Regions from separate parts of the Homo sapiens genome. Here region 2 is linked to region 1. The links come from fine-mapping of genetic effects on gene expression. A gene starts in region 1. The other region holds a variant in brackets. All regions are shown on one strand. Distances are between the middles of the regions. Region 1 holds the start of HDAC7 (histone deacetylase 7). Region 2 overlaps HDAC7 (histone deacetylase 7).

Evidence for each region. PIP is the estimated chance that this variant, and not a neighbour inherited with it, causes the effect.
Region 2: its variant is the best candidate, but not a certain one, in a credible set for the expression of HDAC7 in monocytes after Pam3CSK4 (Quach 2016, PIP 0.60).

Annotation. Positions count from the first base shown.
Region 1 is chr12:47,817,745-47,823,105 of GRCh38, reverse strand. It overlaps HDAC7 (histone deacetylase 7), which reads left to right and starts at 3,203. Exons shown (of 26, transcript NM_015401.5): 1 at 3,203-3,339. The coding sequence starts at 3,321. RefSeq lists enhancers at 1,441-2,362, 3,701-4,274, 4,992-5,361 and silencers at 2,913-3,252, 3,393-3,472, 3,483-3,792.
Region 2 is chr12:47,793,173-47,798,533 of GRCh38, reverse strand. HDAC7 (histone deacetylase 7) reads left to right here. Exons shown (of 26, transcript NM_015401.5): 5 at 315-426; 6 at 1,035-1,150; 7 at 1,392-1,517; 8 at 2,236-2,327; 9 at 2,518-2,628; 10 at 2,767-2,947; 11 at 3,154-3,350; 12 at 3,601-3,774; 13 at 4,946-5,165. Among named protein-coding and RNA genes, the nearest start is that of SLC48A1, 23 kb to the right of the region's middle. RefSeq lists a silencer at 809-1,008. The variant G/A (reference allele first, on the strand shown) is at 2,273.

The sequences.
Region 1 (5,361 bases):
TGATCAGGTTTCTTAACCATAAAGGCCATGCTTTACTCATGAGCATAACAAGGATTATTGTTAAGAATAAATGATCTAATGTTTGTCCAGGGGATAGCAAGGACTGCTACGCAGTAAATGGTAAACAGTAGCTAACTAAGGAAAGAAGGAGAGGAAAAGGAGAAGAGAAGGTCAAGTAGGCCCAGAGTCCCAAAGGGAAGCAGATTGGGGTGCCCTCAGGCTTTGTGCTGGCCGGAGACTCTAGGGAAGGCTCAGGAAGCCAAGGCACGTCTTTTGGGGCCAGTCTCTTCTGCTAGGTGTTCAGCTGAGAAAGCTATGAGAGGCCTGGACTCAAGAGCTTTTTAAAAAAAGGCTCCCCACGGTAACCAGGCTAGAAGAGAGAGAGGTAGCTTGCATTTCTCTGTCTCATGTCTCTAAGGTTCTTGGAGGCTTTCTAATTTATCCTGGTAGGGGACATGTGACTTAGAAACTGGCTTAGGACTCTGCCATGAGGCGGGGTCTGGTAAGTAAATCTGGCAGGGGAAGGAGAGACACAGTCCAGCTTTCCCAGATGCAGGTTGCACATGCTGTCTTTTTCTCTGACTATATGTTGGAGGCAGTGAGTCCTGGTGTGTAGAAAGCCACATGTTGGGCACTGTGTGGACAGACAGGCAGGGAGATAGCCTCTTAATTCAGATCACTCAAAACTCAGTGATGAGTTTAAAAAGAGAAAGAAGACTCACAAATAAATGTATGCACAATGCACATGGTAGAAATGAGCATAAAAGGGCCTGGCTTTACTACAGAAATAGCTACAGAAAAGCTACGGATATGTGTGTGTTGGGGGTTGGGATCAATTGTGGAGCTAGACAAGGGAGATAGCAGGCATGTCGCTGGGGGTCTGCAGTAACCAAGCAGTTTTTCTGGAGTCTGTGGACACCAAAGAGGCATTTGGAAGGAGGATGATCTGGCTTGGAATTGAGGGCTGGGGATGACATACCTAAGGTGGAACAGCATGTGTCTTGGAGAGTCAGCATGGGTAGTTATGGGGTGAAAGAATGTACTGTAGGTGTCCAGCTGGAGAAGGGTTCTTGAAAGTCATGAACATCTGTCCCAATTCAACAAATAACTCACATCAAGTTTGAATTCTGTGCAAGACACTACAAGAAATGCACCCATGACCAAGGCAGTAGCTGGACTCAGGGATATCCACTCTTGAATGCTCTTGGAAGGAAGAGAGTTGAGACAAGTAGACTAGGTGGGCGAAGGTCAATGTATAAAGACCACACAGTTCAGGGAAGAATTCCTCTTGGCTATGGGAATCCGGGAAAGCCTCCCGGAGAAAGTGGTATGCCACTTTCTTTTTCTTCCAGTCCTTCCTTCCTTCCTTCCTTCCTTCCCTCCCTCCCTCCCTCCCACTAGATAGGGAGTGGGTCTTGAGGATTGGAAAGATTTCAACAGAAGGAGAAAGGGGCTGGGAGGACATTTCTTTTGGAGGCAGCATGATGAGCGAAGGCAAGGGAGTGTGGAAGCGTGAGGACAGGATGGGAAGCAGCTAGCAGCCCAGTCTGGCAGAAATAATGATAGTAATAATAGTGACTAACACTACTGAGCCCTAAGTACCAGGAGGCACTGGGCAGGGATGTGTATGGAGTGTGGTGCCAGGTTGTAGGAGGACTTGAATGCCAGGAAAGGCTTTTGGGAGGGTAAGTTAACAAGCGCAGAGGGGTTGGATCTGCCTGCCGAAGGAGAACTGGGACAAGGAAAGGGGCTGAAGTAAGAAGTCCCACGCTGAATATGCCGGTAGCAACAGATAGTGAGTCCCGAGCTGTGCCTGAGGGAAGGGAATAGAATCTATGGTTTGAAGTTCACCGCCAGCATGGCCAAGCCCTCCTAGGCCACTGTGGGCTCTTGCTTCCAATCAGACATGACTCCACCTCTGGGGCTGCCTCAATTTTTCCTTCTCTGGATTCTTGGGGTTTCTTAGGATTGCGGGAGATAGAATGGGGTCAGGGGAAGCTGCTCCTTGGTTTACAATGGTGGCGCCTCACGCTGCAGAGAGCCCAGTGTTCCTGCGTGGTGGACCTCTCCCCTTCCTAGGAGCAGCTCCAGATTGCTGGAGGCAGACACGGCTGACCGGCTAGCCCAGGAAGCACAATGGCGAGGTCCTTAGCCCCTGACCCCTGAATCTGACCTTCTCTCCAGCTAAAAGCGGAGGGAGAGGCAGGGAGGGCCACTGCCTAAAGCCGGCCCTGAGCTGAGTTTATTAGCTGAGGGAGGGCTGGAGGCGGCTGCATTCCGACTCACAGACTGGAACATTTCTGTGATCCGCTGTAATGCACTGGGGGACACTGGGCACATTGCTGAAGTTTGACTCATAGGGACCGGGAGGGGGAAAGAGGGGGGTTGTGGAGGGAGAGGAATGGGAGGAAGAGAGGAAGAGGAGAGGAGGGAAGGAAGTCCCTTGAGAAATTTCTTTAAAAAAAGAAAACTTTCAAAATCTGCACCACCCCCACACCCTTTTTCTTTTAATAGGAACAGGCTGGACCCTTCCGTTCCCCTCAGCAGGCATGGTGTGTGTGTGGGGGTGCCAGTGGGGGAGGGCTGGGCAGTGATTCAAATCAGATCCTGGAACTTTCCTGAGGCAAGTCGTGCTTATGTGTGTGTGTGTGTGGTGGGGGGTGTCCGTCTGGGATTCCTTGTATGGGACATGGGACACCACGCGTGTCCCACTGTGCCCGCGTGTGGCTGCGTGCTTGTGGGCTGTACGGGTATGTAGTGTGTGCACGGGGGTCCACCCCGAAGCCCCAGTGTGTGCTGTGTAAATGATTCTGCCCCTTGTAAACATGGATGCGTGCTCGTGTACGTTGTGTATGCGAGGGTGCGTGCGCCCAGGTAGCTGGGTTTCCGGGAATTGTGCACGGCTCGGAGCGCCTCGCGGCGGCTGGGGCTCGGAGCCGCGGCCGGCGTTCCGGGTTCGGCGCTGCCTCCCCGGCAGTGCGCCGCGCCCCGCCGCGATCTGGCCGCGCGCGGTGTCTGCGGCCCGCCTGTGCGCCGCGCGGTGCAGTGTCTGCCGGGGTGGTGTGTCCCAGGGCCGCGAGCGCCTGCCCCCTCCCTCCCCTCCCCCTTGGCCCGCTCTCAGACTCAGATAAAGCATTTCCTTCCATTGTCATCCTACCCGGCCGGCCGGGCTGCCAGGGCCCTCCCCCTCCCGGCCCCCTCCCTTCCTCTCGCCGTCTCACAGTCGCTCTGCAGCCTCCGGCGACTGGGGGGATGTGAGGCCGGCGCCCCAGCCCCCCGCCCCGCCATGAGCCCCCCGCTCTGAGGGCCCCGGCCCCTGGATGCACAGCCCCGGCGCTGGTGAGTACTGGGCGGCCGCCCCCCGCCCCGCCCTGCGCGCGGCACCCAGCGTCGCCCGCCCAGGCTCGGCCTCCGGCCCTGGCCCCGGCTCCGGCTCCGGCTCCGGCTCGGGCTCCCGCCAGCCCCGCGGGCCCAGCCCGGCTTGCGCCCCCCGACCGCGCCTGTCCCGCCCGGCTCCGCGGGGCTCTGGCAGGCTCCGGGTCGGAGCTGGTTCCGGGGGCCGGAGGGCTCGGGCCTCCCGCGGGGCGCCCACATCCGCCCGCCCCGGGGCAGCTACAGGCCCAAGGGAGGGAGTTGGAGGCCCCGGCCGCCGGTGTGCGGGCCCCACGTCCCATCACCCCTGTTCCCGGGGAGGACGAGCCGAGGGACCGGGGAGGGAGGGACGGCCGCGGTGGCCCGGCGAGGGGGCGGTGCTCCGGGGCGGAAGGTTTGGAAGCGCGAGGGCAAAGGGCAGGACCCACTGAGTTGGGGCTGGGCTTTGTGGGGCTGGACATCAGCGCCCCCATCCCGTGGAGCCGGGCAGGGCCCTACTCAGATCCTTCGGCGGGGAAAGAGGTCCCTTGGAGGGGTCTCTGGCTGGGAGGTTTCTCTGAGCATTGCCCCCCATCCTTGCTCACCCATCAGGGTGAAGAGACACCTGTGCCCTGGTGAGCTGTGGAGGTCAATGCCGGCAGCGGCGCGGGAAGCGGGGCGCCGCAGGCTGTGTGAGGGGTGGGGGACAGGATGTGCACCCCCCAGGCCTGGGGTCTGTTGGTGTTGGGGAGTGTGAGAGCAGGCGGCAAATTTGGCGGATGGGCTGGGTTCCCACGACCAGAGTTTCTAGGCCTGTGGGCCAGGAGAGAGCCCTCTGGGGCCCGCAGGCCACCCAGTGCCCCACCCCCATTGCTTCCCGCTGTGGCTGCCCGTTTGGGTCTGACCTCCCCAGCCACGGCTGCTCCTCACTCCTTCTCCCCGCTGGCTGTCTTGCGCACCCAAAGGCCTCCCCCTGCATCTGGACACTGGCTGTCTCGCTGCCAACGCTCCCTGCCCACTCCCCTAGGCAACATCTGCCTGAGGCCCAGCTCTGCCTGCCGCTTTCTAGGGTGAGAATGGGGCATCGGCCCTCAGCGGCCCTGCTGGGAGCTCAAGATCAACTTCTCAGCCTGTTCCCTGGACTTGCATCTGGACCTGTGGGACCTTCCTCAGGACCCCTATTCAGCTATAGGGCTGGCAGGAGACTGTGACTCAGGTCCCTGCCCTCCAATGAGACGCTTTGGCGGCCCTTTCCCCCTCCCAGGACTCCATAGGCTGCTAGGCTGCCGCTACCCATGGGTTATTAAGTCATTTTCTTCTTCTCTGCAGTCATTTCTGAGGGAAACTAAGGCACAGAGTAGTCCCAGTGAGTGGTACCCAGCCCAGTGAACCTAGACTGGAACCAGGTCTTGGACCTATTGGGACTGGTCCTCTGCCTTTAGTCCCCTGATGTCCCTCCTTGCCCAGCAGGGCCAGGCTCAGAGGCAAGCTCAGAGCTGCCTCCTGATGTTGCACCTGGAATGGTCCTGGTGCAGTGTTCTCCAGAGGCCTCTGTGTCCCTTATTCGGCGGGTGTCTCTGTGGCCACCGGGTCTTACAGTGGGTTTTGGGGCAGGGAAGTTTGCATGTCTAAGCTGTTCACTCCACTTTGACACTGAAGTTCAGTTTCCCCATCAGTAAAATGGGGAGAAAATTCCAAGCACACTTCTCAGAGCAGAGCAGAAGAGGTTGACTATGGAGAGGAGAATGAAGGTACTGTGCTATTATCCACCCCCTCCAGTTTGCTTAGGGATAATGGACCTCAGCTTTAGTCCTTGGTGGCCTCTTGGCATGGAAGCTGGAACTTTCTCAATTCTGATATAAAACCCTTGAGCAAGAGAGAAACTCATGTGTGATGGGGTAGGGAGTGGGGACCCTCTGGTAGCTGTGGGCAAGCATGCCCAAGGACTTGGAAGACAGAAGCCTGTGGAACCCCATCTCCTCTTTGCCTTCTTTCTCCTGGCCTTTCATT
Region 2 (5,361 bases), 25 kb after region 1:
CAGCCCCACCAGCCAGGTGCCTGCGGCTGCCTGTGTGGCTTGTGAGGGGTGAGGTGGGAGGGCCGCAGCCAGCTGGGCCTGAGCCGAGGCTTTCCCTCTGCTTGCCTGGGCTCTGCCTGTGAATGTGTGGGGGATGTGGGGGTGGGGGGTGGTGTCTGGAGGCTCTAGGGAGGGGTAGGGCCTCGGGCTTGGCTCTTGCCTAGGGAGTCCCTGGGACGCCTCCTACTGAGGATGGGGACAGGGCAGTGGCCAGGTAGTGCCACGAGGCCGCCTGTCCACCCACCTCCAGCCCCCTCCTGACTCTGCCCCTACAGGTGCTGTAGCCAGCAGCGTGGTCAAGCAGAAGCTAGCGGAGGTGATTCTGAAAAAACAGCAGGCGGCCCTAGAAAGAACAGTCCATCCCAACAGCCCCGGCATTCCCTACAGGTAACACCCTCCTCACCTGCCCTCCTGTCCCCACATGCACCCTCCACCCCCGCCCCCGTGTTAGCCATGAGCACACACACTTGCCTCCTTCCTCCCCAGTTGCCACAACCAGTCCTTACCCTTCCTCTAAACATAATGCCCCCGAGCCCCTCTCTCAACTGATACCTGCCCTCCTCTCTTTAAATTCTCCCCACCCCACCTGAGCCCTTCTCACACACACACACACACACACACACACACACACACACACACCCTACTGGCTTTTTTCTTGCACATGAGCCCCTTCTCTCTTTATATTTTCCCTGAGCGCAAAAATGTCCTGGTTCCCAGAGCAGGTTCCTAGTGCAGGTGACAGAGCCCCCAGTGGGCTCTTCACCCACGCACCAAGCACCTGGCTTCTATGCCTAGGTCAGAGCTCTGCACTATAGCTGCTGGAGCGGACAGGCGGCCCACTGCTGCCACCTGGAGATGGTCCCCATTCCTACCAGCCCCACATTGCCCAGCCCTGCCCGCTGCAGCCTCCCCCTCAGGTCCCAGGGCCCGTGCTCAGGGCAGTGCCCGTGCAGTGTCCCCACACCTCTGAAGCAGCCTTGGCACTCGTTCTGTAGAACCCTGGAGCCCCTGGAGACGGAAGGAGCCACCCGCTCCATGCTCAGCAGCTTTTTGCCTCCTGTTCCCAGCCTGCCCAGTGACCCCCCAGAGCACTTCCCTCTGCGCAAGACAGGTGAGCTGAACAAACAGGCGGACCTTTCAGGCAAAGGAAGGGGGAAGGGCCTCGGACATGGGGGAGGAGTGTGCAGGGGTGGGCGGGCTGGGCTGGGCCAGGAGATCATCGGTAGGCTAGGATCTTCTTTCTAGTTCTGCCTTCTCTTTCCTTGACCGATAGAGATGACTGGGACTGAGGGGTTAAAGGGTGGAAAAAAGAAGGGTGGTGGGGGCCTGAGTGACGCTGGTGCTCCCTGCAGTCTCTGAGCCCAACCTGAAGCTGCGCTATAAGCCCAAGAAGTCCCTGGAGCGGAGGAAGAATCCACTGCTCCGAAAGGAGAGTGCGCCCCCCAGCCTCCGGCGGCGGCCCGCAGAGACCCTCGGAGGTGAGGGCCGGCTGAGCCAGTGCGGTTGCCATCCTCAAACCTGGCTGGTCTTGTCCCTTTGGGTCAGGCCCCACCTAGACAGGGGTCCCCTCCTTAGGACTGCCATGCGTGGTTGCATGGGGGTGTCCCACACACTTGCCGAAGCGGGGGAGTTGGGGCTGAAACCCAGTCCCTGCTCTGTTAGCTAAGGTGACATCTCCCAGAAAAGGGGGCACCCTTCAAAAAATTATGCAAAGGTGCTGTAGGCCAAAGGTGGCCTGTCTTCTTCCTGCTCTGATGGGAAGAAAGCAGGAGGCCGGGCGCGGTGGTTCACGCCTATAATCTCAGCACTTTGGGAGGCTGAGGCAGGTCAATCACCTGAGGTTAGGAGTTTGAGACCAGCCTGGACAATATGGTGAAACCCTGTCTCTACTAAAAATACAAAAATTAGCCAGGCACGGTGGTGCATGCCTGTAGTCCCAGCTACTTGGGAGGCTGAGCCAGGAGAATCGCTTGAACCCAGGAGGTGGAGGTTGCAGTGAGCCGGGATCGTGCCATTGCACTCCAGCCTGGGCAACAGAGCAAGACTCTGTCTCAAAAAAAAAAAAAAAGAAAGCAGGAAGCAAAGGTGCTCGTTAAGGAAGGGGGTGCTCCCGGGTCTCCTGCACCAGGCGGCCTGGCTGTACCCTCCTGCCCACCCTGGCCTCTGACTGCACTTCCCTCTCTCCCCAACCCTCAGACTCCTCCCCAAGTAGTAGCAGCACGCCCGCATCAGG[G/A]TGCAGCTCCCCCAATGACAGCGAGCACGGCCCCAATCCCATCCTGGGCTCGGAGGTAAGGCCTTGCCGAGACTGGGCTCTCCTGGGGCAGTTCTGAGGCTCAGCCTTCTTCCAGCAGGCGGCCCTACCTGGGCTGGGGCTGCAGGGTCTGGGCAGCCCCTGCCAGAGCCTCCTGGGTGTTCTGGGGAAGGTGCGCCGGGGTAGAGGTCTGGGACCGGTGACCCTCGCCCTGCTCCCTATGGCAGGCGCTCTTGGGCCAGCGGCTGCGGCTGCAGGAGACTTCTGTGGCCCCGTTCGCCTTGCCGACAGTGTCCTTGCTGCCCGCAATCACTCTGGGGCTGCCCGCCCCTGCCAGGGTGAGTGGCTGGGGTGCCCACCCCCACTCCAAGCCCCCCCAGCTTCTTTCACTCCCTTTTCTTGCTGCCTCACCCCATCATCTTCATTGTTCTCTGCTGGAATCTTCTTCCCCGTGACTTCTCCCGCCTCTCCCCCAGGCTGACAGTGACCGCAGGACCCATCCGACTCTGGGCCCTCGGGGGCCAATCCTGGGGAGCCCCCACACTCCCCTCTTCCTGCCCCATGGCTTGGAGCCCGAGGCTGGGGGCACCTTGCCCTCTCGCCTGCAGCCCATTCTCCTCCTGGACCCCTCAGGCTCTCATGCCCCGCTGCTGACTGGTGAGTCTGCTGCTTCTTCAGGGAAGGGGCTGGGTCCCTGCACCCTGCTAAGAGCCAAGCTTGGGATGGACCCATCCTTCCTCCCCATCTCTGTCCCCCTGTCCTGCGCATTGCCCTGCTGCACCCTGGCCCCCCACCCTATACCCTCGCTTCCTTCCATTGCTCCCTGTGGTTCCCTCCTTATTCCACCCCCCGATTCTTTCCAGTGCCCGGGCTTGGGCCCTTGCCCTTCCACTTTGCCCAGTCCTTAATGACCACCGAGCGGCTCTCTGGGTCAGGCCTCCACTGGCCACTGAGCCGGACTCGCTCAGAGCCCCTGCCCCCCAGTGCCACCGCTCCCCCACCGCCGGGCCCCATGCAGCCCCGCCTGGAGCAGCTCAAAACTCACGTCCAGGTGATCAAGGTGAGAGGAATTGGGCAGTGGAGGTATTGAGGGAGTGTTTAACTGGGGACTTAGGGGCCAAAAGAAGAGGGGTACTTAGAAAGGGCAGGGAACTGGAGGGCAAAAGAGGGGGATGTGGCTTCTTGGGGCCCAGAGCTGCATGGCAGCTGGAGTCCTAGCAAGATGACTGGCTGCCTGGCCCAGCCCACCACCTCCCACCCCATGCCCCTCGCTCCACCATGGCTTCTCAGCCAGGTTCTCCCCTCCCCAGAGGTCAGCCAAGCCGAGTGAGAAGCCCCGGCTGCGGCAGATACCCTCGGCTGAAGACCTGGAGACAGATGGCGGGGGACCGGGCCAGGTGGTGGACGATGGCCTGGAGCACAGGGAGCTGGGCCATGGGCAGCCTGAGGCCAGAGGCCCCGCTCCTCTCCAGCAGCACCCTCAGGTATGGCAGTCCCCACCTGCCCCTCAGAAAGTGTCCTCAGAAGACTCTGGGGCCTGGCATAAGATGGGGAAGGGAGGGAGATACGACATCAGTGCAACAGGCAGCTCTAGGACCCATGGTTGCCCTATAAGATCCTGGGTGCTGGATCCACACTAAGGTGTAGGCACACACACACATGCACACTCACACACCCATACACACACATACACACAACAGCTTGCCAGTCTCAGGTGAAGCATGTCCCTTTTCCAGGAAGGAGTCTGTCCTTTCCTGGAGCCACACATAGTCCTGCCCTGGTATGTCTCCCCTCTATCCAGAAAGGTGGCTAGGGCCAGAGGTGGGATGGAGCCAGGCTCCAGCGTGTCCAGCAGAATGCTCTCACTGTGGGAATCAAGACCCAGTGCATTAGCTTGCCGGAGCTGTTGGGATACAGGCTGGGCGCCTTAAACAGCAGGCATTTACCATCTCACAGTTCTGGAGGCTGGAAGTCAAAATCGAGGTGTTGGTGGAGTTGGTTCCTTCTGGGGGCTGTGAGTGTGAGGGCAGGGGCTGTTCCCGGTCTCTCTCCTTGGCTTGTGGATGGTCATCTTCTTCCTGTGGCTTCATGTGGTTTCCCTCTGTGAATGCCTGTTCAGATTTCCTCTTCCTATAAGGACAATAGTCATACTGGGTTAAGGCCCACCCTAACGACCTCATTTTAATTTGATTACTTCTGTTTGTAAAGACCCTATCTCTGAATAAGGTCATGTTTAGAGGTACTGGGGGTTGGGACTTCAACATATAAATTTGAGGGTGGGGAACATAATTTACTCCATAACACATGATGACAGGCCACACACATGTTCTTGAACAGTTACATAGTCCAGGACAGGAGGACATCCTGGTCAGCACAAGATCCAGCGCCCCTCCCCTGGTTCCTGGCTTTGGAGCCCCAAGGGCCCGGGGAGCTGGTGGAATGGGTGGTCAGTCTGGGGTGCAAACCTGTCAGGGGGCTGCAGGGGACAGGGGGCTTAGAGAGTCAAAGGCCAGAGCCCCACTGGACAGCAGGTCTAGGTTTATCCTGGAATCTCTCTAGGAAAGGGGCCTGCTTGGCAGTTCCCAAGACCTCAGGCAGAAGTAGAGGGAGCAGGACCCTGAAACACTGGAGACCAAGGCCCCATCTTTCCCCTAGGTGTTGCTCTGGGAACAGCAGCGACTGGCTGGGCGGCTCCCCCGGGGCAGCACCGGGGACACTGTGCTGCTTCCTCTGGCCCAGGGTGGGCACCGGCCTCTGTCCCGGGCTCAGTCTTCCCCAGCCGCACCTGCCTCACTGTCAGCCCCAGAGCCTGCCAGCCAGGCCCGAGTCCTCTCCAGCTCAGAGACCCCTGCCAGGACCCTGCCCTTCACCACAGGTGAGACCGGGAGGAGGGTGGCGGGTGGAGGGAGGGGCTCGGCTGCACGAGTCCATGTGGGTGTCTTGGTGTCACTTGGGACATTTTTAGAGGCCACAGAGTGCTTAGCCTTGTTAGGCCCACGTAGTACCCATGGAGCACATGGAACAGCTGGTTATTGCATTTGGCCGATGAGGACCAAGGCTCACGAAATCTA